Linked DNA regions of Homo sapiens. The protein of the gene in region 4 interacts with the protein of the main gene of each other region in a pairwise test. Each region holds a gene or a part of one and is shown on either strand. Other genes may lie near its edges.

Region 1 (7,033 bases), on a different chromosome or scaffold from region 4:
AACATCAGTGGTAGCCAGGCAGTACTTGCCATGGGCCTAGGGCAGTGGTGGCCATGAGGAGAAACTCCTTCTGCTTGAGGAAATAAGAGAGGAGAGTAAAAAAGACTTTGACTCAGAATTTGGGTATCAGCTCAGCTACCAAGTAGCTTTACCAAGTAAAATAAAGCACCAAGTAGATTCTAGATTCCTAAAGTTCCCGACTCCAGACCCTCCCTCCCAGACAGCATTTCTACACCCACCCTGGGCCAGAAGGGAACTCACCACCTTGAAGGGAAAAATACAAGTTTAGAATGATTCACCACCTGCTGACTAAAGAGCCCTTGGGCCTTAAATAAACATCAGTGGTGACCAGGCAATAGTTGCCACAGGCCTCGGGTGACATCAAGTACTGTGTTGGCTTTAGGTCTGACTCAGCACAGTTGCAGTAGTGGTGGCCACAGAGGTGCTCGTGTCACCCCTCCTCCAATTCTAGGAAGCTCAGCACAGAGAGAAACTTGTTTGTTTGGGGTAAAGTAAGAGAACAAGAGTCTCTATTTGGTAATCCAGGGAATTCTGTCATATAGTACCCCACACCACCAAAGTGCTACCTCTGTTAGTCTGCAAGAGTCATACTATTATTGGGCTTGGGCAGATATGGCTGCAATAGGCAAATACTTAGATCTGAACACTCAATTTTCTTTAAATACTTCTTTAAAGCCTTCCCAAGAAGGGCAGGTACAAGCAAGCCCAGACTATGAAGACTACAATAAATACCTCACTTGTCAACACCCAGACATTGATGAACACTCAAAAGCATCAAGATCATTTAGGAAAACATGACCTCACCAAATGAACTAAATAAGGGCACCAGTAACCAATCCCAGAGTGACAGAGATATGTGACCTCTCAGACAGATAACTCAAAATAGCTGGTTTGGGAAGCTAAACAAATCAAGATAACAGAGAGAAAGAATTCAGAATCCTATCCATAATGAAAATGTAAAATGAAATGTAAATTAGATTGAAATAATTTTTAAAAATCAAGCTGAAATTCTGGAGCTAAACAATTGAATTGACATACTGAAGAATGCATTCGAGTCTCTCAACAGAACTGATCAAGGAGAAGAAAGAATTAGTGAGCTTGAAGACATGCTAATTGAAAATATACAGTGAGGGAGACAAAATAAAAGAATAAAAAAGAATGAAGCATGCAAAATTATTAAAAAAAAAAAAAAAGCCCAGGACCTCATAGCTTCATTGCTGAATTTTACCAAACATTTAAAGAAGAACAATCCTACCCAAACTATTCCAAAAAACAGAGGAGAGAATACTTCTAAACTCAGTCTATTAGGCCAGTATTACCCTGATATCAAAATCAAGCAAAGACGTATCAAAAAAAGAGAAAGTATAGGCCAATATCACTGATAAACATTGATGCAAAAATCCAAAACAAAATAATAGTGAACCTAATTCAACAACACATTAAGATAATCATTCATCATGACCAAGTGGAATTTATCCCAGGGATGCAAGGACTGTTCAACATATGCAAATCCACCAATGTGATACATCATATCAATAGAATGAAGGAATAAACCATATGATAATTTCAGTTGATACTGGAAAAGCATTTGATAAAATTTGGCATCTCTTTATGATAAAAACTCAAAAAACTGGGTATAGAAAGAATCTACCACTGCACAATAAAAGCCATATAAACAGACCTACAGCTGGTATCATACTGAAAGAGGGAAAACTGAAAGGCTTTCCTCTAAGGTCTGGAAATAAGGAGGATGCCCACTTCATCACTGTTTATCAGCATAGTACTGGAAGTCCTAGATAGAGCAATCAGACAAGAAAAAGAAATAAAGGGCATCCAAATTGGGAAGAAAAAAAGTCAAATTATTCTTATTTGCAAATGATATAATCTTACATATGGAAAAACCTGAAGACTCCACCAAGAAATCATTAGAACTGATAAGTTGAGTAAAGTTGTAGGATACAAAATTAACATAAAAATCAGTAGCATTTCTATATGCCAACGGCAAACAATCTGAAAAAGCAATCAAGAAGTAATCCCATTTAAAATAACTGCAAATAAAATTAAATACCTAGGATTTAACTAAAGAAGTAAAAGATCTCTACAATGAATACTATAAAATACCGATGCAAGAAATTGAATAAGACACAAAAAGATGAAAAGATATTCCATGTTCATGGATTGGAAGATCAACATTTTTTAAATGTTCATACTACTCAAAGCAATCTACAGATTCAATGTAATCCTTATCAAAATACCAGTAACATTCCTCACAGAAATAGAAAAAAGATCCTAAAATTTATATGGGATCAGAAAAGAACCTGAATAGCCAAAGTCATCCAGAGCAAAAAGAACAAAACTGACTTCAAATTATACTACAGAGTTATAGTAACCAAAACAGCATGATACTGGCATAAAAACAGACACACTGAGCAATGGAACAAAATGGAGAACTGACAAACAAATTCACATACCTACAGTGAACTCATTTTTCACAAAGATGCCAAGAACATACACTGGAGAAAAGATAGTCTCTTCAATAAATGGTACTGCCAAAACTACATATCCATATGCAGAAGAATGAAACTAGACCCCTATCTCTTGCCATATACAAAATCTAATCAAAGACTTACATCTAAAACATAAAAGTACCAAAAGAAGACATTGGGGAAACTCTCTATAACATTGCTCTGGACAAGGACTTCTTGAGGAATATCCCATAAGCATAGGCAACCGAAGCAAAAATGGAAAAATGGGATCACATCAAGTTAAAAACTTCTGCACAGCAAAGGAAACAACCAACAAAGTGGAGAGACAACCCATGAAATGGGAGAAAATATTTGCAAACTACCCATCTGACAAGGAATTAACTGGCAGAATACATAAGTAGCTCAAACAACTCAGTAGGAAAAATGTCTAATAATCTGATTAAAAAATAGACAAAAGATCTGAATAGACATTTCTCAAAAGACATCCAAATGACAATCAGGTATATTCAAAAGTGCTCAACATAATTGATCACCAGAGAAATGCAAATCAAAACTACAATGAAATATTATCTCACCCCAGTTATAATGGCTTTTATCCAAACAACAAACAATAATTAATGCCGGTGAGGATATGGACAAAAGGGAACCCTTGTACACTGTTGGTGGGAATGTACATTAGCATAGCCACTATGGAGAACAGTTTCGAGATTCCTTAAAAAAATAAAATTAGAACTAATATATAATCCAGCAATCCCACTACTAGGTATATACTCAGGAGAAAGGAAATCAATATATCAAATAGATATCTTCACTCCTGTGTCTATTGCAGCACTATTCACAATAGCTAAGATTTACAAGCAACCTGTGTCCATCAAGAGACAAACGGATAAAGAAAATGTTGTACGTACGCACAATAGAGTACTAATCAGCCAGAAGAAAAGAATTAGAATCTGTCATTTGCAACAACATGGATGGAAGTGGAGGATTTCGTGACAAGTGAAATAAGTCAGGCACAGAAAGACAAACTTGGCGTGGTCTCACTTATTCGTGGGAGCTAAAAATGAAAACAGTTGAACTCATGGAGCTAGGAAGTAGAATGATGGTTACCAGAGGCTGGGAAGGGGTAGCGAGCTGGGGGGAAGTGGAATGGTTAATGGATACATTAATATAGTTAGAAAGAAGTAATAAGAGCTAACGTTTGGTAGTACAACAGGGTGACTACAGTCAACAATAATTTATTGTACATTTAAAAATAACTAAAAGGGGCCGGGCACAGTGGCTCACACCTGTAATCCCAGCACTTTAGGAGGCCGAGGCAGGCAGATCACCTGAGGTCAGGAGTTCCAGACCAGCCTGACCAACGTGGAGAAACCCCATCTCTACTAAAAATACAAAATTAGTCGGGCGTAGTGGCACATGCCTGTAATCCCAGCTACTCGGGAGGCTGAGGCAGGAGAATCGCTTGAACCTAGGAGGCAGAGGTTGCGGTGAGCTGAGATTGAGCCATTGCACTCCAGCCTGGGCAACAAGAGCGAAACTCCATCTCAAATAATAAAACTAATAATAATAATAATAACTAAAAGAGTATATTTGGAATGTTTGTAACACAAAGATATGATAAATGGCTGAGCTCATGGATTAAACAAACAAACAAAATGTCAGAAGTATTTCCTCTGGAGTATAGAGTAAAATGGGGAGGAGTAAGATTAAGTGAACTTTTCTTCTTATTTATACAATTTATTACTGTATTATTGGAAGTTTTACAATGAGAAACATTTATTTTTTTTAAAAAAAAGAAACAATATTTTTAAAGGAATGCCAAAAGATCCATTGGTAGATATGTGATGAAATTACTATAAAAATGTTCGTTCACAGTAAATGGGCACATTTCGTAGTGCATATAGTATATAGTATAGTTTGGGATTACTTTGGATCAAGCAGATAGCCAGGCTCACAGTGGTTCTTGTTTGAATAACAGGCTGGGAATCATAGTTAATTAATCTCTGTAAGCCATAGTTTCCTTATCTGTAAAATGAAATAATACTGTCCTAGTTATATCTCAACATCCACCACAGTGTTTAGCCCCTTTTTAAGAAAATGAATAATTCAGGTTTAATTTAGAGGTCTAAGATCGAGACTTTTGAAATATAACCTTGTTTTTTTTCCTTGTGAATTCTATGAGTGCAGTTTACATGAGCACAATTCAGATGGATGTGTTTTCAACCACACACCTGGCAAGTCACCACACAGTGCTGTGCAACTGATATCATTTGAGAAGAAGAGGATAACTGAGTTCCTGTTGGAAAAACAGCAATTTGAAAGTACTGCTTAAATGAACACAAGATGGTGTCAGGATTCCAAGTTTCTAGTTCTTTCTAGGGAGTTACCTAAGGTCTAAGTTTTATCCTGAACAGAATCTCTTGGGGAACTAAAATGCTACCAATGAAAAGCTCTTGATACTCCTACATCATGAATATTATTGAGCTCTAAAACTTGAACTGGTCGTGTCAGGAGAACCTTTAACTGCTCATGGCAGTTCTTGTGGACTGAGAGGAAGTACTACTGGAGATCTTGGTGATAGTGGCCAAAAGGAAAGGGTATGATTATGATTGCTGGGAAGCAGATGGCTTTTGAATATGTTCATCCAAATCCTAAGCCAGAGACTGTGTTTAGTGCTTGTTCCTCCTGGGAAGGCTTATGGTAAACAAAAATACAGTTTAACATGTTTAATGTTTTGAAATTCTGGGAGAAGAATAGAAATATTCATTTGTTCCTAGGTGTCCACATGAGCATGGAGGTATTCTAAAGTGTAAGAAGTGACAGCATAGGCATGGTTAAAATCTCAGATTCTGACCTCATCCTGGCTCCTCCACTTACTACCTTCAGCATTAGCTCAATAAACCTCAATGCTTTGTCTATAAGATTATGGTGACAATTACATTTAGTTAAAAGATTATAAAGTTTCGGCCGTACACGGTGGCTCACGCCTGTAATCCCAGCACTTTGAGAGGCCGTGGCGGATCACGAGGTCAGGAGATAGAGACCATCCTAGCTAACACGGTGAAACCCTGTCTCTACTAAAAATACAAAAAATTAGCCGGGCGTGGTTGCAGGTGCCTGTAGTCCCAGCTACTTGGGAGGCTGAGGCAGGAGAATGGCCTGAACCTGGGAGGCGGAGCTTGCAGTGAGCCGAGATCGCTCCACTGCATTCCAGCCTGGGCGATAGGGCGAGACTCCGTCTCAAAAAAAAAAAAAAAAAAAAAAAAAAGATTATAAGATTTCAACGGGATAATACATATAAAATGTTTAACTAGCACCGTGTCTTACACATAGTAAAGTCTCACCAAAGTAACCAAATGTAGTAGTACACCCTTATCTATGGCTTTGCTTTTAGTTACCTACAGTCAACTGCAGTCTGAAAATATTATAGTATTTTGAGAGAGAGAGAATGAGAGAGAAAGAGAGAGAGAGACATTCACATAGCAATACACTGTTTTATTTTATTGTTAGTTATTATTGTTAATCTCTTACTGTGACTGATTTATAAATTAAACTTTACAATAGGTACGTACGCATAGGACTAAACAGTCTATATAGGCTTTGGTACTATCCACAGTTTCAAGCATCCATTGGAGGTCTTGGAACATATCTCCCATGGATAAGGTGGGCTACTGTATTGGTTTAAGTTCCTCAGATTTCCTGGACTACCTGACATTAGGCTCTACAATTCTTTCATACATGCTACTTCAATCAGCAGCATGCTTAGCACATAGCATGTGTTTAATAAAAGTTAAATTTAAAATAAAAATCAAGATTTCCAGTTGAACTGAAGCTAGGGAAACCTACACATATTTTGTGCGTTAGTTTGTTTGGAAACATCGTCTCTACAGAGAGTATCTGATGACATGGGAGATGACATGATAGAGTCAGTCTGGTGGAGAAGATATCTAGGCCTTCATCAGTCCCAAATCCACATTATCCATGTAGGGCTGCTTTTGTAAGATCAACGGAACCCATGTCATTGATGTAATGCTCATTACTGCCAGCATCCTTACTGTTTTTGAATATCTATGTAATAGTTGTTTTTCTTATATTATTTCACTGAATTCTTAAAATGCCTTAATGGAGATGCTCTTATTCCTATGTTAACAAGAAAGCTGAGTCTCAAAGTGGTTCTATAACTTGTTCAGTGCCACACACTAGTGAGTGAAAAAGCCATGACTAGAATGAGGGCCACAGAGAGCGGGACAAGCCTTTTTGCCGGGGAAGATAAGCTAAATGTCTCCCTAGACAGGCAGCCCTACATCCTATTGGGTCTTATTGATATCCTGACTTGCTCTAGACTTGTCTGAAACCCTGGTTTATCTGGCTTCAAAGCTTACGAAGCTTCCACCAGACCAGAGGACCATCATTTGAGTAGTGATGAAATATTCTCCAAAAAACAACAACAAATGCGACAAATTATCAGGGACCTTAGAGACTCTCAACATAAATCCCAGTTTCAGAAATTGTGTCTCAAAAAAGTA
Region 2 (4,559 bases), on a different chromosome or scaffold from region 4:
TTCATCCTAGCGTATGTTCCTTTATTTAGCAGAGTCTAAGACGAAAGGTAATGCCAGGGAAAAGTCAGGGTGCAATAGGATGAGAGATGGAGCTGCAGACCTTTGCATTTCTAGAAAAATCTCAATATCCCAAGGCAAAGTTGTATTTTCCCCAGGATATGTGCATACATTTTTCATAGATAAGCTTTTCATTTTTGTTTTGTTTTTATCTTTAAAAATGACTTTTTTGGAGGAGATATACTTCTAAAAAGTTATTGTATGGCTAATTAAAGCTATGAAACTTAATCTCATATAATTTATATAATTTGATTCAGTTGGTACATTTTTTATTGTGTTCATTTAAATGTAGCCTTCTTGGGAAACTATGTATAACAGGAAAAGATCATGACATCATTGTGTCCTCATAGGGCTCATAATTGAATTTTACCTTGTAAAAATTTCATTCTGGTTCAGGTATGCAAAGATTTATACGAACATTTAGCAGTTCATCAATTTTTAAATCAGATGTTCATTGTTTCATTCATTTATTCAACAAGTATTTATTGAACTCTTATTTTATATAAAGACCCCATTTTATGTGTTCACCATAAGCAGCATTATTTAAGTGACTATTCATGATAAAATAATATTCTCCTCCTAAGTGGCTGCTAGTAAAATGGGTATTTTAGTCCTTTAGACCATTGTCTCAGTGAAGTTAAAGATTTTGTTCCAACTGGGAAAATCTGAGAGAGGTAAATTCATCTGGGGACCAGAAAATAGCATATTGCAAAACAAGTTAAGATGCACAACTTGGTTGTCTTTGCTTAACTCACTGGGCTATTGGTTGTTAGCAGCAGTATCAAGAGACCAGGATTAGGGCCTGGGTCTTGGGTTTTTATGACCCCCCCTTTCAATGATAAGGCAACAAGTTGGGTACAAGGCTGGAGTTGCTCAGGGAAGGAGATCTGCGACCCTGAATGGGTCAGAGTTGCCTCATTAGTGGTAAGCGTTGGCAGTGTAGTCCCTTTCCCCGGTGTGCAGAAGTAACATTATTTGTTTTGCACTAATTTAAAATTTAAAATGCAAGTATCTATTGAGTTGTTTAAAATGGGAATCATGGCACGTCTCACAAAGAGGGCATTTCCAGAACAGCAGGGTTAACGGGTCCCTCTGAGTGTACCCAGCAGCCTGCGTTTAGGAGCAAATTCATTGCTCTCATATTAAGGCTATGCATGCCTACAGAAACCAGGCCAGGAATAAGAAATAAATAATCACATTTCCTGAAATGTTTATCTGTTTCTTCCTTGACATGAATTTAATTTTTATTTCCCAGAGTCTTTACTAGATCCTGACATCAGATTTTAAAAGATACTGAGATATATGCTTCTTTAAATGATAACTGTAAGTTCCAGAAATGTTATTCACTTGTCAGGATCCTTTTAAGGTGAAGAGCTTTGGAAAATTTTATGCGCTAACTAGATACCTGGGTGATCATCAACCCAAAGTTTAAAGTTCTCCCCTCACTAGCATTTATCTGAACTACCACAAAACAACAACGCAGGTTACTAGGAAGGCACCTATTTCAGCCCTCCCCAAGATTGCATTCTACAAACCCAGAGATCAGCTGTCAGGTACAACTGGCCAGACAGAGCCAAACTGAAAAGAATATTGCTTTATCTGTGGAAACCTTGCCACAGATGTTTAACCTGTAGTCCATGGCTGTGTTTGACATTTAAAATATTTATTTAGTTTCTTCCTTTAAATAATAAATGCCAGATGTTTCATCAGATCAATATGTAAAACGATAACAAAAAATATGTCGGAAACAGGTCAAAGTCATGAAACATTTGAATTGTCTTTCCTATAGACTGAATATGCCACCACTGCACTTAGAAAACCTATGGAGGAAATTTTAATGGAAAAATAAGGACATTCTGCGCTTATTCCCACAGAGGTTGATGGGAATGATGATGATTATAAATTATATTGTGCAATTACTGCCATGCCTTGTTCTAATGCTTAATGTGGATTATCTCTTTTAATCCTTAGTAACTCTATAACAAAGATACTATCATTATCCCCTTCTCATATATGCTTAACAGTTTTAGCTTTGTAGCTTCTTTAGTTTTTTTCCTCCTTCAAAGCCATAAACAGGCAATTGTTAAAAGAGGAAAATACTTCTCTATGTAAAGCTTTTTTTTGAGAACAAGAGCTTTTAAAAATTAATAAACACAAGTATAATTTATTTATAAAATGTGTTTGTGGAAACAATACTGAAGTGCTATTAAAACACGTATCATTATAGATGCTGATTTTGTCATGCCCAAATCTCATTGCTGGACAGAATTTCAACTATTCCATTGCTGTCAGGCATTGTTTTTGTTTTTCTAAGCAGGAATCTAAAATTCCACATTGAAAGAAAAAAAAATAACCCTCTCAAGTGTGATATACATTAGGACAAATGGCAACAGGCAGGAAGGGCAGGTTGTGTTGGAGGGTGGCCAGAAGAGAATAAGGTTCGAACACTATCGACAGGTAAAAACACATCCTCAACGGGGCTAAGTGAAATCTCGTTTTCTTTCTTTGTTCTGACTGAATGCTAAGTGAGTTACTTTCCAGGCATCAATGGAGTCATTACGCAGTTGTGTGCATTAAGAATATGGGCTTATGTTGTTAGCCTGTTGGTTTAAAGCAGTGCAGCAGAAAGACTGGAGTCATTATAGGTTTGGTTTGTCAAAGGCACAGATAGTGTAGTTACATGCATGAGGTACTCAAGGAACCAGTTCAAGTTCTGGGGCACAATCTAGATGAAACTGTGAGGTTTGTTCAAAAAGTAAGTGTACAAAATTTCATCATGAACTGGCTTTATTACAACTCTTTACCGTGGTTTATTGAAACCACAATGTATACTACTTTCCTCCAGATTCTGATTCTAATGGGCACATTTGTTTGTTGAAATGATAAATATATTTTCCTTGTCAAACATGGTGGGTCCTGGTTGATATCTCCTGTTTCCTGCCTTGAAAAACATCCTTGTTGGTGCCTTTCTCCCACTTTGGTACATCACTCCCAACTGAAAACAGTCTAGATATAAACTTTAACAAGCTGGAGATCTATTTCTACAGCACAACTCTTTCATGTTTAAAAGCAATTATGCCGTATCAGGTGATTGCCACATGTTGGGGAAAGCAGCCATCTTAGAGCAAAAGTCTGCCAACCCACAGTCCCTGTTGATCCACATGTGGGCATTGTCTAATGTTAACAAAATCAGCACTTGTAGACTTACTTTCTCTGAACAATCTAGTACACTTCTCTAGTTTCTCCCAACCTGGAGAAAATGTATAGCAAAAGCCAGAGGCAAAATTATTCTCCTTAGCAGTTCTAAGTATTTCATGAAAAAGCCTTCCCCCAGTTTAAATGCAGAGGCTAAGGTGATGACTAACGAATTAAGGAAAACTTTGGCTCAGATCAGCAAAATTATTTTGGAAACTTAATGTCCCAAGTTAATTATTTTTTTTATATCAAGGGGAAGACATCCAGTTCTGTAGGATGCTAATAGAAGTGTGATATTTAGATGCTATTAGGACATTGTATACATTTCTTTAATGTGGTTATTTTAAGTTTAGGACTGTAAATGTTCCCTACTGGAATAGAAATATGTCTCTCTCCAACTTTCCACCAAATAAAATGGTTAGAGTGAATGCCCAGTTTCACATCTGCCTTTTGGAGTTTGGAAAGCTTAAACAAGTCAGTTAAGAGAATGAGAAGAATCTCACTGTGGGTGATAAGGAGTGTGTAGTTTGCTGTAAGGGCCACTGATATGACAAGAATGATTATCCCACAGTAAGAATGGGTAAAACTTAATAAAGTTTTCTAACTTTATTAAACTCACATTATTTAATGAAAAAATAACTGCAAAGGACCAATGAGATCATGCATGCTGCTGTATTCTTGTGATGGAATCTACCAGGATTAAGTTGTATTTAAATGAAAAAACAGGTACACATTTAGAGATCATTGACCAAGAAATGTAAATATATTTGATTAATAAAACGTTTTTATGATGACTCGATCTTCCCTTGGATTCTGTCTTTTCCAGTCCCACAGTCATTTTTCAAGCACCATCTGATTCTAGTGTGCAGCTTAGGTAGTAGGCAGTCAACAAACTCTTGTTGGGGAAGTATAAGCTAGAAAATACACCTAGCAAGCAGGAAGGTTGTTAAAATTCAGCCCTGAGGTTTATTCGGATGCATTTGAGATTACTGTTTTCCTTATTCATGTGCTCACATGCTCATTTGCCCAACCAAGTCAGGTGCACAGCTTCTTAAGGAAACTGTGCGCAGAGACCCAGCCACAAATCTGTGGCAGGCTGGACTTGATATTTGACCTCTAACCCCATAAGCTTTGGAGCACAGCAGAAAGCACTTGCCCGGAGAGTGGCCTGGGGCTATGACTCTTCTGAATGTATGTGATTGGGGGCTCTCAGAAAGAAAGCCAAAGTCAGCTGTTTGTCTCTTGTTCTGTTGGAAAATAAAATTTCACTTAGAAAAAATATGTGAGCATGTAGGAATAGCAAGAAG
Region 3 (7,033 bases), on a different chromosome or scaffold from region 4:
CTGTAGAACCTTATGCAGAAATGTTCTGCTTTATATCTGTCAGACTGACAAAAATGAAAGTTACTTAATCCTCAGTGCTGGAGAATAGATGGGGGAAACAGTCATACACTGTTGAGGAAACAGAAATTGGTTCAGCCTCTTTGGAGAACAGGTTAGCAATGTCTATCACAGTTGAAACTGCCAGGAATTTTCCTTATGAATAAAATCATCAGTATGTAGAGTATACAAAGATATATACACTGTTCAAACAAGGATGTTGCAACATTATACATTTGTAGGAGGAAAAAAACTGGAAACTATCTTAGCCATCATCAAGAAACTAGAAAACAAATGATGGTACATTTTTATCACTGGACTATCAGATAGCCTTAAAGATCCAGGTATATCTGTGTGTTGGCATGTGCTCAGATAAATTAGCTGAAAAAGAAGATCTCAGGAGAGTTTTGTATAGTTGTGTTAAAAAGAAAAATGGATAAACATGTAAATGAATATGGGTTTATATATGCATATGAAATTTATGGAAAAATACATAAAACATTTATAGATTTATTCCGGGGAAAAGGGATGAGTGGCTGAGAAGATGGGGAAAGTTTACTTATGATACACTTATATACTTTGTGTAATTAAAAAGCATGACATACAGCCATAGGAAAACAAAAGCTTAAGTTTATATATAAAAGAAAAAAAATGAATGACATTTTGGTGAAAATCTTCCCTATATTTTTATAAGGTAATTGGCAATGTTTATAAGGCAACATTTCCTCTCTATCCAGTCCATGGGATAGCCAACGACAGCAATAGTTCCAGAAAGAAAACAGGAGACAGAGAAAGTCACCAAAAAGAGTCAAGAGACCTAAAGAGAATAAGTGTCAAAATTTGTATGTTTTACTTGTTCTTGGATGTGAGGAAACAAAGGCAGTTCTGACTAAGAGTCTGAACTAAGACATTCTGAGAACTCTCCAGGCTGGCACAGACTCTGGGGCCAAGAAGCGGAGGAGACTAGGGATGCCCAGGTAAGTAATGGCCATAAGTAACCTAGTGAACAAAATGAATGACCCAGCTCCTGGGGACATAATGACACAGTGCTTTGCTCACCTATTTCCCTAGCTCCTGAATACTCCTAGGGACTAACTCTAATGATAATAATGCCATAAGAATAGTTGGCATGTATCAGGTACCTCCTACCTGCCAAGCAGAGGCTAAATGCCTAATCATATCAATTTATATTATACTATTATTATTCCTGTTTTACATATGGGGAAATTGTGGCTCAGCAAATACACACATGTAACTTACTCAAGGTTGCAGTAGGTGCTGGAGGTAGGAATCAAACCCGTACCTGACTCTAAAGCCAGCCAAGGTCATTGCTAGCCTTCCCCCCTCTGAAGGAAGGACAAGAAAAAAGGTACTCCCTCAGAGTAGGGATAGCCCCATAAAGAGAAGACAGCATTTTTATGCAAAGAAAGGGCCAGAGAGTGTAATGATTCAGTACAAGGACTTTGAAGCCGGATGTCCTGAAATGGAATCCTGACTTTTCCATTTACTGGCTGTGTGACCTTGAGTAAGACATTGAACCTCTCTGCTTCACTTTCCTGAACAGTAAAATCAGAGTAGCACTAAAGTCACACCTGGCCAGACACAGTGGCTCATGCCTGTAATCCCAACACCCTGGGAGGCCGAGCCGGGTGGATCACTTGAGGTCAGGAGTTTGAGACCAGCCTGGCCAACATGGTGAAACCCCTTCTCTACTAAAAATACAAAATGTAGCCAGGAGTGGTGGCGGGTGCCTGTAATCTCAGCTACTCAGGAGGCTGAGGCAGGAGAATCACTTGAACCCGGGAAGCAGAAGTTGCCGTGAGCCGAGATGGCACCACTGCCCTCCAGCCTGGACGACAGAGTGAGACTGTGTCTCAAAATAATAATAATAATAATAATAATAATAATAATAATAATAATAATGATGATGATGATGATGTCACCCCTTAGAGTTGTTAGGAGGACTAAAGGAGTTAAGTAGACAGCACCTGGCTCATAATAAGTACCAAGTGATTATGATGAATATTAAGAAAAAGGTGCCCGTCCCTCTAAGCAGATGCAACCCTGCAGGGTGCAGAGCTTGGCAAGTGGATCCACAGGCTAGATTTCAGCCTCTCCTTTAGCCGAGTGCCACTGTGCCCATCAGCAATACACAACTCTACAACCTTACATAGGTCCTGCTGAGCAATTAACCTGCATGTACTGGCAGTTCTTCCTCCCACCTTCCCTTCCATCAGTCTGGCTGTGAATCAGAATCACCTGGCACACTTTGAGAAAATACAGACTTTCAGGGCCCTATATTGGCTGATTCTAACACAGGTGGACTGGGCTAAGGCCCAGGCATCTGTACTTCTCACAAGTCCCAGGTGACCAGATGACCCAGGAACACCATGTACCTGGATACATGTTTTTGAAAGTACTCAAAGCTCATCATTCTAGCTGACATTCTGGCTGTCTGAGTTGCTCCTTGAGACCAAGCATCCTCTTTGTCAAGTCTGGTCCCAGGCCTGGGCACACAGAGAAGGGGCACAGTGAACATCTGTGACTCCGCAAGCCAGCCAGCACAGCAGATGGCTGTGTGAACAGGCACAACAGGCTGCATTTGCTTTCATGCTTAAGCGGTTTGCACCAGGGAACCCTCACCTGTAGACTTGGGGTCTCCCATACCCTTGCTTCTCAAAGTGCAGTTCACAGACTAGCAGCTTGACACCCCCTGGGAGCTTGGTAGAAATGCAGAAAACTCCATACCCAGCCCTACTGAGTCAGTTTCTGCATTTTAGCAGGAAACCAAAGGGGATCCATATGCAAGTTTGTGGATACGCCCTAGATCCCTTCTCCCTATCCAAGTAAGTTCTAACCAATGGGCACATCTAACCTGTTCAAACACCCTTTGGGGCCAGTCTTCTCCTTCAAACTCCTACAGAGACCCAGAAGAACAGCACAGTCCCTTCAACAGCCCAGACTCACACTTAGCAGCCAGCCTAAGGCTCCAGGTGAACCTTCACTTTAATAAGTTATTTATTTCTAAGTCCATATTAAAATAAACCTTCCCAATAAATTGAAAAAGAGACACCTCTGGCCTCTATAATTCCAGGAAGTAAAACACCCTCCTCTTTCGTACAGAATTGAGACCCCTGCTTTCCTGCCTAAAGCCATCCAGGGACATCAAACGGTCCAAAGAAAACAAGCGATGTCTTCCCGTTGGCCAAGCTTCAAGTTATCAGGCAGATTTCACACTGCAGTTTGACCTCATTAATCCAAGGCCTATCACATTGCTGTAAATGTCAGTGGAAAATAGCCATTCAGTGGGTTTCCTTCATTCCACTAGAAAGGGACAAAACAGGAAGCTGACAAGCAGCTGTGCCCCAGCTTGGCAAATCCCAAGGGCCCAGCTGACAGCACCTATGCTCCTCTGCCCCAGCCTACTTTCCAGATAAAGACGGGTCCTGTATCTACATGGGTAAAATGCAGTGGTGATGGCAGGAACAATTCAGATAATCTGGGCCCCCAAGCACCTGCTTGGGAAGGAAAACAGAGAGCTCGGTCTGAATGTCTTTGGCCTGAGTTACTAATTGGCTGTTCATCATTCAAGTTCATCTAAATCTCTTCTGCCTATTCAAAATGTTCCACAAGCTAAACCCCTGGGACTCCAGGGGACATAAGGCCTTCCAAGTCCTCATTCATTCCTTTAATGCATATTGATTGTCTCCTGTGTGCTGGACATCATGCTGATCACGCTGGCCAACTGGAGACACACAGCTGAATGAATTGGACACAGTCACGGACCTTATGGGGCTCATCGTCCAGTGTAGTCTTTCTTAACCTCAGCACTATTGATATTTGGGATCAGATCATTTTCTGTTGTGGGGGTGCTCTCCTGTGCACCACAGGATATTTAGCAGCACCCCTGGTGTCTACTCACTGGATGTCAGTAGCTCCTCTCCCCCACTATCCCCCGAAAAGTTGTAACAACCAAAAACGTCTTTAGACATTGCCAAATATCCCCTGGGGAGGGTCAAACTGCCCCAAGTTGAGAACCACAGGTCTAGTGGATGAAACAGAAGACTAAAAGAGTAATGCTCACATATAACCATATAATCACAATTATAAGTACTGCAGAGAAAAATCTGCTGGATATTACATCAATATTATCTACAGCTTGGAAGCCAAGCATTTTCCATATGATTACAAATCCTTATGACAATTCAGAATTGTGTTTGTGAGTTACTATTTAGCAACTTATTGAAGATGCTAAAATTAGCAACTTATTTCTTCATCTTTATTTCCAGATGAAGAAATTAAGGTTCAAGGAAGTGAAAAAATTTCCCTAGGCCCCAAAGCCAGTGGAGGCAGAGCCAGCATTTGAACCCTGGCCCCAAACTTTGCCCCCATGTAAAAGGAAATGTAAGCCTGTGTTTGGATGTCCTCTGAAACAGGGAGGGTCTGTGGTCATGTGATGCTCTGATCAGCCATCCTAAAAGATTCATTCATTCCTTCCTGGGGCCACCGTGGGGCTCAGCCACCATCTTGCCACATCAATCAAGCTGCACATTGCCTGCATCAAGGCACATCTGTGGGCGAAGGAATGCCATTCTAGATTCTGAGACATCCAAGAACACCTCCCCACAAAGCGTCTGCACCCAGGAATTTCCCCAAAGTCAGGTTACATACCCAGAGCACACCCCACTGTGACCCATCTCCAAAATGCCTACTGCCCAGCGCCCAAAGGTACACAAAGCAAAAGAGGCCAGATATTCTGCAGTCAGCCTTAGATTTACAAAGTGTGTGAAGAAGGTGGTGAAGGATAGCACATGGCAACTTTGAGATGCCCCCCAAGACGTGAGTTCCTGTCACTTACAAGCTGCATGCCCTTTAGCAAATTGCCTCACCCTCTGTGCCTCGGTTTCTCCCTCTGTGCAGTGGGGGATAAGTGCATTCATTTCAACGGATTGGTATGAGAATTCAATGGCGATGCAAGTAAAGACCTTTGACAGTGACCAGCATCCAGAAATGCACTTGGTGCTATATCATGATCAATCAGTGAGTCAGGTCATGACGCTTCCTCCACTTCTACCCTCTTCTCTCAGGTGAGAAACTGAGTCCCAGGAAGAGAGAAACAAGTGCAGAGGTGGGAAAAGCATCTCAGGAAGAGGGAGTGGACCTCTTCTTCTTCGTGCTTCCTGGGTGGAATGAAGAGGGAAGGATGGTGAATGTATGGATAGTTGAGCAGAGACCAGCCCTTCCTCCCATGCAAAAGTTAATCCTGAAGTTTCCTGGACAACCCTCACTAGAGAACCACCCTCCAAGGAAGGTGCAGAGGGACTGCCTCGGGTCAGTGAGTGTTTAATCCTTCGGGGCTCCCGGCAGGATAGCCTCTGCTACCTCCCTGGCCTTGCTTCTGCCTCCATCAAACTTTCTCATGACTCTGCTCCATCAGCAACTCCTCCCACTGCTCTCCAAAAACATCCAGCACTTTTAAGCCTCGGTGCCTCTGCACATGCTGTTCTCCCGGCTAGGGCTGCCCTACCACCTGGAAAACTGTCACTGAAGGGCTCAACATGCTCCCACAGCAACTTTTGCCCACCTGTTATTGGCAATAATAGACTAATAATAGCAACGAACATCTGTGAGCACTTATTAATATCTAGAAAGCCCAAGCTGGGTTTTTAAGTTTTTTGGTTTTGTTTTTTTTTTTTTTTTTTTTTCGAAACAAGGTCTTACTCTGTTGCCCAGGCTAGAGTGCAGAGGTGCACGCAATCATGGCTCACAGGAGCCTCCACTTCCCCCGTTCAGGTGATTCTCCCACCTCAGCCTTCCAAGTAGCTGGGACTACAGGTGCACACCACCATGCCTGGCTAATTTTTTGTATTTTTTGTAGAGACGGGGTTTTGCCATATTGCCCAGGCTAGTCTCGAACTCCTGGAGTCAATCAGTCTGCCCACCTCTGCCTCCCAAATTGCTGGGATTACAGGCATGAGCCACCGCACCTGGTCCAAGCTAGGTTTTTTATCCACAGTGTCTCACTTCTCTCCTCACATCATCATCTTAGGGAGGTGGCTTATCTGCTTGAGAGGTAAGGCCTCTGTCCATCCTCACCCAGCTACAAGGTGGCAGCTTCAAGATTCAGACCTGGGTCAGCCTGAGCCATGTGGATCTGCTCGTCACTCTCTCTTCTTGCTGTTGCAGCCTTTATCCCACAGTGTCCTCATTATCTGTCTCCAGGCCTGCCTCTCCCCATAGAGGGAGAACTCTGAGAGCTGCCTCATTCATCTTGAAATCCCTTGCTAAGCACAAGGGCTGGGATGGAATAAACGTCTTTTGAATGAATCAATGAATCCTGGAAAATGGCAGTCAGCTGAGAAAGGCTAAGTGGCTGCTCACAGACTCCCCGGGGAAAAGCTGGTGCTAGACTCAAGTTCCCAGGAGTGAGCCCCCACCCCCGCCCCAGGAGACAGGCTGAGAGGCTTTCCCCGTCCTGATGGCTACAGGCAGAAGAGACAGGGTCGCACTCACTCCCCACCCTAGCACTGGAGGAGGTGGGACCTTTGAGAGTCCAACACAAAGGAGGAAATAGTAGTGATGGTGACAATGATCATTTCCTGCATTCCTACCCACACCAGATGCTGTACTGAGCACTTTTTTTTTTCTTTTTCTTTTTGAGATGGAGTCTCGCTCTGTCACCCAGGCTGGAGTGCAGTCATGTGATCTCGGCTCATTGCAACCTCCTGCTCCCGGGTTCAAGCAATTCTCGTGCCTCAGCCTCCCAAGTAGCTAGGACTACAGGCATGCGCCACCATGCTGCACTAATTTTTGTATTTTTAGTAGAGATGGGGTTTCACCATGTTGGCCAGCTGGTCTCGAACTCCTGACGTCTAGTGATCCTCCCGCCTTGGCCTCCCAAACTGCTGGGATTACAGGTGTGAGCCACTATGCTCCACCCTAGTACTGAGCACTTTCTATGTGTTAATGGTCTCATGGAATCCTTACAATCCCACAA
Region 4 (7,540 bases):
CCTCTAGACTACGGGTTCCTTGAGGGCAGGATCTGTGGTCTGGCTTGTTCACTGCTGTATCCCTAGCATCTTACAAAACAAAAGCCTGGTGCTTAGTAGGTGATCAATAAATACAAATCTAGTTAATGAATACATGACCTTGACAGCTCTGCTTAGCCTAGGAGACAAGGATATTCTCAGTTCGCTGTCCAGCTGGTCTGCTGCCAAAACTGAGGTGCATGGTTTCCATGGCAACAGAAGAGGGCCCGACAGGCCAGCAGCAGGAGGCAGATGCAGGGATTGTGAGCTCTGCATGTTTTCAAGGTGTGGCCTAGAAATCCGGAACATGGCGGTGGGTTCTTTCAATAGATGTTGAGAGAAAAAAAGCTTCATAAATACGGCTAACTCAGTTGTTCACCAGGCAGGTTTCTAAGTCAATTAATGAAAACTCGGGCAAGTAGTCGAGGTCTTTAAAGGTGACATGGGAGGCTCTTAGTGTTTGAAAGTCTAGGAACTCAGGAAAGTTTGGTTTTAGTCTGGATCCTGACTAAGGGTGTGACCCTGGGCAAGTTACTTAACCTCTCTGGGCCTCAGCATGCTCATTCATAAAATGAGAGGTTTGACCAGCACTAAAATTATTTATAAAAACATGTGTGGTAGGAATGCAAAATGGTACAGTCACTGTGGAAGAGTTTGGTGGTTCCTCAGTAAGTTATACATAGAACCATCATATGACCCAGCAATTCCACTCCTAGGTATACACCCAAGAGAACTGAAGATAGGCACTCAAATACATACTTGTGCACAAATGTTCATAGTTGCACTATCCATAATAACCAAAAGGCCACCAATGGATGAATGGATAAAGGTAGTATATCCATACAATGGTGTATCATTCAGCCAGTCATAAAAAGGAACAAAGTATTTATACATGCTACAACATGAATGAACCTTGAAAACATTACGTTAAGTGAAACAAGCCAGACTCAAAAGGTCACATACAGTATTGTATAATTCCAACTAAATAAAATATCCAGGCTGGGCATGGTGGCTTACGTCTGTAATCCCAGCACCTTGGGAGGCTGAGGTGGACAAATCACCTGAGGTCAGGAGTTCGAGACCAGTCTGGCCAACATGGCGAAACCCCATCTCTACTAAAAATACAACAATTAGCCGGGCACGGTGGCATGCGCCTGTAATCCCAGCTACTTGGAAGACTGAGGCAAGAGAACCGCTTGAACCCAGGAGGTAGAGATTGCAGTGAGCCAAGATCGCGCCACTGCACTCCAGCCTGGGTGACAGAGACTTCGTCTCAAAAAATAAATAAATAAAAAAAATATCCAGAATAGGTAAATCCATAGAGACAGAATGCAGATTGGTGGTTGCCAGGGGATGAAGGGAGAAGGGAATGGAAAGTGACTTCTTAACGTGTACGGAGTTTTCTTTTGGGGTGATAAAAATGTTTTGCAACTGGACAGACGTGCTGGTTGCACAACATTGTGAATGTACTAGGTGCTAGTGAATGATACATTTTAAAATTGTTAATTTTATGTCAGTTGAATGTTACCTAAAAAAAAAAAAAAAAGACATGTTCTGCAAGCATGCCTTAAGTTACATAATGGATTCCTAGGAGCCTGAGAGATGGGCAAGACTGAGAGTAATGGATGAAGTAGAGAGGTTACTCCCACCCCCACAATCACACTGCCAAGGCGACATTTGGAAAAAAGCTCCCAGGTGGGATCAGAACGGCGTCTGGACTGTCTCTGGCCACTTCCCCAAGGTGGGATCCTGGACCACTCTGGCTCCTTGAACCTCAGGCTTCCTATCTGCAAAACAGGGCTGATGCACGTTCCCTGTTTTCCTCAGAGCACCACCTTCTGAACCCACCTTCACCGGGTGAATCCGCTGGAATGGGGCCAGTCATGGCACCTTGTTTTCTAAGCATAGCAGACAGAGAGTCAGTTCCTGGTTCAAGTGGAGCCATGGACGGGTGACAGGTTTCAGAAGCCACTGGTGAGAAAGGGGCAGTTAACCAGTTTGAATCCTGGCTCCATCACTATCTGTGTGGCCTTGGGCAGGTCACTCACCTTCCCCAGTTCCAATGGTTGAATAGGAATATCTGTACCTACTATGGAGAAACGATGTGTGTATACACTGGACACTCAGAGCAAACCTCTTTTTCTTTTCTTTCTTCTTCTTTTTTTTTTTTTTGAAACAGTTTTGCTCTTGTTGCCCAGGCTAGAGTGCAATGGCGCGATCTCGGCTCACCGCAACTCCGCCTCCCGGGTTCAAGTGATTCTCCTGCCTCAGCCTCCCCAGTAGCTCGGATTATAGGCATGTGCCACCACGCCCGGCTAATTTTGTATTTTTTTTTTTTTTGAGACGGAGTTTCGCTCTTGTTGCCCAGGCTGTAGTGCAATGGCACGATCTCGGCTCACGGCAACCTCCGCCTCCCAGGTTCAAGCGATTCTCCTGCCTCAGCCTCTCTAGTAGCTGAGATTACAGGCATGTGCCACCACGCCCGGCTAATTTTGTATTTTTAGTAGAGACGGGGTTTCTCCATGTTGGTCAGGCTGGTCTAGAACTCCCGACCTCAGGTGATCCGCCTGCCTCGACCTCCCAAAGTGCTGGGATTACAGGCATGAGCCACTGCGCCCGGCCTAGTTTTGTATTTTTAGTAGAGATGGGGTTTCTCCGTGTTGGTCAGACTGGTCTCGAACTCCCGACCTCAGGTGATCCGCCCGCCTCAGCCTCCCAAAGTGCTGGGATAACAGGCGTGAGCCACCGCGCCCGGCCCCTTTCTCTTTCTCTGTGGATGTTCCCAGCAGCTCTCTCAAAAATAAAACGTGCCAGTTCCCAAAATCCGCCCAAGAAAGCTGTGGCTCAGAGAGGGAGGCACTAGCCTAAGGTGACAGTGAGTCTGGGCTTAGAACACAGATCTCCTGGCTTCGTGTCCAGGGAACTTTCTTCATGCCTCTAATTCATTCTCTCCAACAGGAGTTTGGCATGTACTATGCCCTAGAGCGGAGGTGTGCAGGACAGGTGCTGCTGTCCCTGTGCACAGGTTAAGAAACAGTTTAACTGAATCTCAGGGAGGCCAAGTGACTAAGCACCAGGACACGAAACCAGAAGGCAGAGGTCTCGATTTTGAACTCGGATCATCCGCCAGGGCAACGCCCGGAAGCCTCAGGGCGCGCGTGGCTGGGCGCGAGCTCGGCGCGCAGCGGTGGGAATCCCGAGCGGAGTTGGAAGCCGGGCCCGTTCATTTGCATGCTAATACCCAGAATGCTTTTCCCCCGCACACCGCTTCTCTTAATGGAAGCGCTCAGTTTGGAACCGTGGAAAGTTTGGAACACATACTTCGCTGCCTCTTTGCAACTGTGGGAACTTCCCGCCCGCACACGCGGCGCCTGCAGCCTGGGGCTCCGCGCCAGGCGGCCCAAAGGCAGCCGCCAGCGCTTCCTGGGAAGACAAACCTTGGTGTACAACTCTAGCGTGGTAGCATCCCCGGGCGGGCCGGGGACAAAGCGCCGAGGCCTGGCGGCAGGGCCCATTACCAGAGCACCCGGCGTCTCACAGGGCTGCGGGCGCTGGGGATGCTCCGGGCTTGGAGAGGCCTGAGGGTGTCCCCGACTCCTCCGGCACCCCCACTTCCCTGAGGATTGCTGGGGCTTCCGGGGGTCCCTGCCCCGTCCATCGCCCTCATATTGTCGCCTCCCGGAGCTGGTGACTTCACGCTCCCCGGGGACAAAGCTCGGCGTGCTGTGGTTTGGGGGAGAAGCTGGACGCTGGCTTCATCTCTCCAGCTCTTCCGGGCGCGCAGCCCATCAGATCGATCAATGTACCGGGTGCAGAAGCAGCTCCGGAGGTTCGGCCTGTCTCCGGCCAGGACCCCGGGCCCTCTCTGGTGTTTGAAGCAGGGAGGCGGTCGCAGGCGACTTCTGGGAATTTCACGCATGAAAGCGGGGCTCCGAAGGGTGGACGACGCCCGCTCGACCTGCGAGTGCGCTTCGCAGGCTGGGGGGCCCGGATCCGCACCCCTCAGTTCCTGCCCCCCCACCCTGCTAGCCGCCACTCTCAGCGGGCAGGGGAGGGGCAGTGGGAGCTGGTTTGCTGGCTCGGCGCTTCGTTTGCATTGGTCCGGGGGGGCTGAGACTGCAGCCCCCGGCCCCGCGGGCGGGGTGGGGAGGCGGGGGCCGGACGGGGGCTCAGGCTGCTCTAGCATTGGCGGATCTGGGGAATGGGGAGGGGGGGCAGGAAGCGGGGGGAGCGGACTGCGGGGGGGGGGTGTATAAATAGGGAAGGGGGGACGTGCATCCTCGTCTTGGTGAGGGGGGGGCGCTCGGCACAAAGAAAGTGTAAAGTTTGCAGCGCCAGGCGGCCCGGGCTAGGCATCCGGGCGCGCACGTGCAAGGCCGGGGACGCCGGGGCCCCCACTCTGAGCTCGCCGTTTCTTTTTTTTCTGCAAGCGAGAGGGGGGGTGTTGTTGGTATCGCCCCCTCCTTCTCCTCCCCCCAGGGGTGAAAGTGCAAGAGGAAGTGCAGCCGCTGCCATCTTTCCTCCGCTCCGAACACACGGAGCCCGGGGCCGCACAGCCGCCGCTCCGCCGCCGCCTTCTCCCGGCCTGAGGAAGGGCCTACTCTGCCGCCGCCGCCGCCCGCCCGCTCCAGCCGCCGCCGCCGCCGCCACCGCCCTCCAGGCTCCGGGACCCGGCCCGCGCCACCGCCCCCGTGCGCGCCCCGCCGCCGCCGCCTTCGCCTTCGCCTTTTGTTTCCTCCGCTCCGGCGCCCCCGCCCCGGCTCGCGCTTTGCAGGGGACGCAGCGCGCGCCCCCAGCGGGCCCGGGAAAAGCCGCGGCGCGCGCGCGCGCCTGCGCGGCGGACCCCTCCTTCTCCTCCCCGCGTGCGCGTGCCCTTCTTGGCTGCGCGCCGGCGCCGCCTGGCGGGCGGGAGGGGAGGTGGCAGGCGCGTTTGCAGGAGGGGCGCACCTCTTCGCTCGCGCACCCCCCCGGAAGGTAGACCGGGAAGGGGAGGCGGGCGGGCGGAGAGGAGAGAGTGGCGCGCAGTCCAGCGAGGGCGGGGGTTGGCTATGTGGGGGGTGGTGCACCCCGCAGTCTAGACAGTCTGATCCGGGCTGGGGGCGTGTACACTCGGCGCACCTGCGAGACTACAGAGCCTCGGGCCGGCACGTGTGGGGAGTGTGGACACGTCTGCTGCGCCCCGCTTCTCGCTGCTGAGGGGAAGGGAGGGGGCGGGCAGGTGCAGCGGCCGGGCTAGTGGGAGGGGGCGGCGGCCATGGAGCGGGTGAACGACGCTTCGTGCGGCCCGTCTGGCTGCTACACATACCAGGTGAGCAGACACAGCACGGAGATGCTGCACAACCTGAACCAGCAGCGCAAAAACGGCGGGCGCTTCTGCGACGTGCTCTTGCGGGTAGGCGACGAGAGCTTCCCAGCGCACCGCGCCGTGCTGGCCGCCTGCAGCGAGTACTTTGAGTCGGTGTTCAGCGCCCAGTTGGGCGACGGCGGAGCTGCGGACGGGGGTCCGGCTGATGTAGGGGGCGCGACGGCAGCACCAGGCGGCGGGGCCGGGGGCAGCCGGGAGCTGGAGATGCACACTATCAGCTCCAAGGTATTTGGGGACATTCTGGACTTCGCCTACACTTCCCGCATCGTGGTGCGCTTGGAGAGCTTTCCCGAACTCATGACGGCCGCCAAGTTCCTGCTGATGAGGTCGGTTATCGAGATCTGCCAGGAAGTCATCAAACAGTCCAACGTACAGATCCTGGTACCCCCTGCCCGCGCCGATATAATGCTCTTTCGCCCCCCTGGGACCTCGGACTTGGGCTTCCCTTTGGACATGACCAACGGGGCAGCCTTGGCAGCCAACAGCAATGGCATCGCCGGCAGCATGCAGCCAGAGGAGGAGGCAGCTCGGGCGGCTGGTGCAGCCATTGCAGGCCAAGCCTCTTTGCCTGTGTTACCTGGGGTGGACCGCTTGCCCATGGTGGCTGGACCCCTATCCCCCCAACTGCTGACTTCCCCATTCCCCAGTGTGGCATCCAGTGCCCCTCCCCTGACTGGCAAGCGAGGCCGGGGCCGCCCAAGGAAGGCCAACCTGCTGGACTCAATGTTTGGGTCCCCAGGGGGCCTGAGGGAGGCAGGCATCCTTCCATGCGGTCTATGTGGTAAGGTGTTCACTGATGCCAACCGGCTCCGGCAGCACGAGGCCCAGCACGGTGTCACCAGCCTCCAGCTGGGCTACATCGACCTTCCTCCTCCGAGGCTGGGTGAGAATGGGCTACCCATCTCTGAAGACCCCGACGGCCCCCGAAAGAGGAGCCGGACCAGGAAGCAGGTGGCTTGTGAGATCTGCGGCAAGATCTTCCGTGATGTGTATCATCTTAACCGGCACAAGCTGTCCCACTCTGGGGAGAAGCCCTACTCCTGCCCTGTGTGTGGGTTGCGGTTCAAGAGAAAAGACCGCATGTCCTACCATGTGCGGTCCCATGATGGGTCCGTGGGCAAGCCTTACATCTGCCAGAGCTGTGGGAAAGGCTTCTCCAGGTGAGGAAAGGCCCCCTCTTCCTCCCCTGCCACACGTTATCTTAGTCCTGAAAAGGCTCCTGCCAAGATCTGGGGGTGTGGGATTTGTGGGGGTCATTTGACCTTATAGAACCATGCCAGGTTTGGGTAGAGTGTTTTTAAGGGCCCTTATTTTGAGATGGTATGCCTGAGACCTGCTTTCCATTCCCTCAGGGAAGTTTTTTTGACGCTAAGTGTGCCCTACTGTCTCTCCTCCTGGGGCCGGATTCCTCAGGCCAGAGCCACCGGACCTCACCATTCTTCCCCCAGGGCTCCCTTTGTGTTTCCGGCACCAGGCGTGGGGCCCCCTCTGGGGGCGGGAGACTGGGCTCCTCCAGCGACTTCCCCGCTTGAATGGCTGCCGAGGGAGGTACTGGAACAAGTGCATCTGGGACTCCCTACACTCTTGAGGCACCAGATTCCCCAACACAGAACACTGGCCATCCTGATCAGTAGACTCCAGCTGTGCCTCTCACACCACCCTGGGATCATGGGACACAGAGCTGGTCACCCAGAGCTGCTGCTTAACACCAAAAGCTTTGATCTGCTCTGACCTGGTAGCTCTAGAGCCTAATGGGACCCACGAGCCCCTTTATGTTTTCAGGACAGAAAGGAATGGGGACAGGATCTCTATGTAGGTTCACTTTCTAGTTAGCCTGTTGGGGAACTGAGGACTTGTCTGGGAGCAGAGGGTGATTTTGTTTTTCTCCTAAAAGGCCGGTTTTAACCTGGATTGTAGGACCTTGTGTGTGTGAACACAGGGATGGAGAACTCCCTCAGAGGGCCCCGACCAGGAACCAGTCTTACCGGTCAGGCAGCCCCTGCCCACCTGCTCAGGCGGGCATCTGGCTTACCAGCCCAGCTGGGGACTTAAGGCTCCACTGCTGGCCTCTGGGGACTGAATTCCATCCGGGTGGCATTCATTGGCTGCCCGTGGCGGGAGAGGCTGGGGGAGGGGATTGCTGAGTTTCTAAGGGGC

The links.
Region 1: the proteins of PATZ1 (region 4) and LURAP1L interact in binary tests that used the Homo sapiens proteins (3 or more experiments, as listed by UniProt).
Region 2: the proteins of PATZ1 (region 4) and PRDM6 interact in binary tests that used the Homo sapiens proteins (3 or more experiments, as listed by UniProt).
Region 3: the proteins of PATZ1 (region 4) and PPP1R16B interact in binary tests that used the Homo sapiens proteins (3 or more experiments, as listed by UniProt).

What each region holds. Positions count from the first base shown.
Region 1 is NC_000009.12:12,778,009-12,785,041, reverse strand, and holds part of LURAP1L (leucine rich adaptor protein 1-like), read right to left. Parts: intron 1-7,033.
Region 2 is NC_000005.10:123,190,216-123,194,774, forward strand, and holds the end of PRDM6 (putative histone-lysine N-methyltransferase PRDM6), read left to right. Parts: 3' UTR 1-4,051; downstream 4,052-4,559. UniProt on the Homo sapiens protein: Putative histone methyltransferase that acts as a transcriptional repressor of smooth muscle gene expression.
Region 3 is NC_000020.11:38,808,694-38,815,726, reverse strand, and holds part of PPP1R16B (protein phosphatase 1 regulatory inhibitor subunit 16B isoform 1 precursor), read right to left. Parts: intron 1-7,033. UniProt on the Homo sapiens protein: Regulator of protein phosphatase 1 (PP1) that acts as a positive regulator of pulmonary endothelial cell (EC) barrier function. Involved in the regulation of the PI3K/AKT signaling pathway, angiogenesis and endothelial cell proliferation.
Region 4 is NC_000022.11:31,343,335-31,350,874, reverse strand, and holds the start of PATZ1 (POZ-, AT hook-, and zinc finger-containing protein 1 isoform long C), read left to right. Parts: upstream 1-4,528; 5' UTR 4,529-5,272; coding exon 5,273-6,543; intron 6,544-7,540. UniProt on the Homo sapiens protein: Transcriptional regulator that plays a role in many biological processes such as embryogenesis, senescence, T-cell development or neurogenesis. Interacts with the TP53 protein to control genes that are important in proliferation and in the DNA-damage response.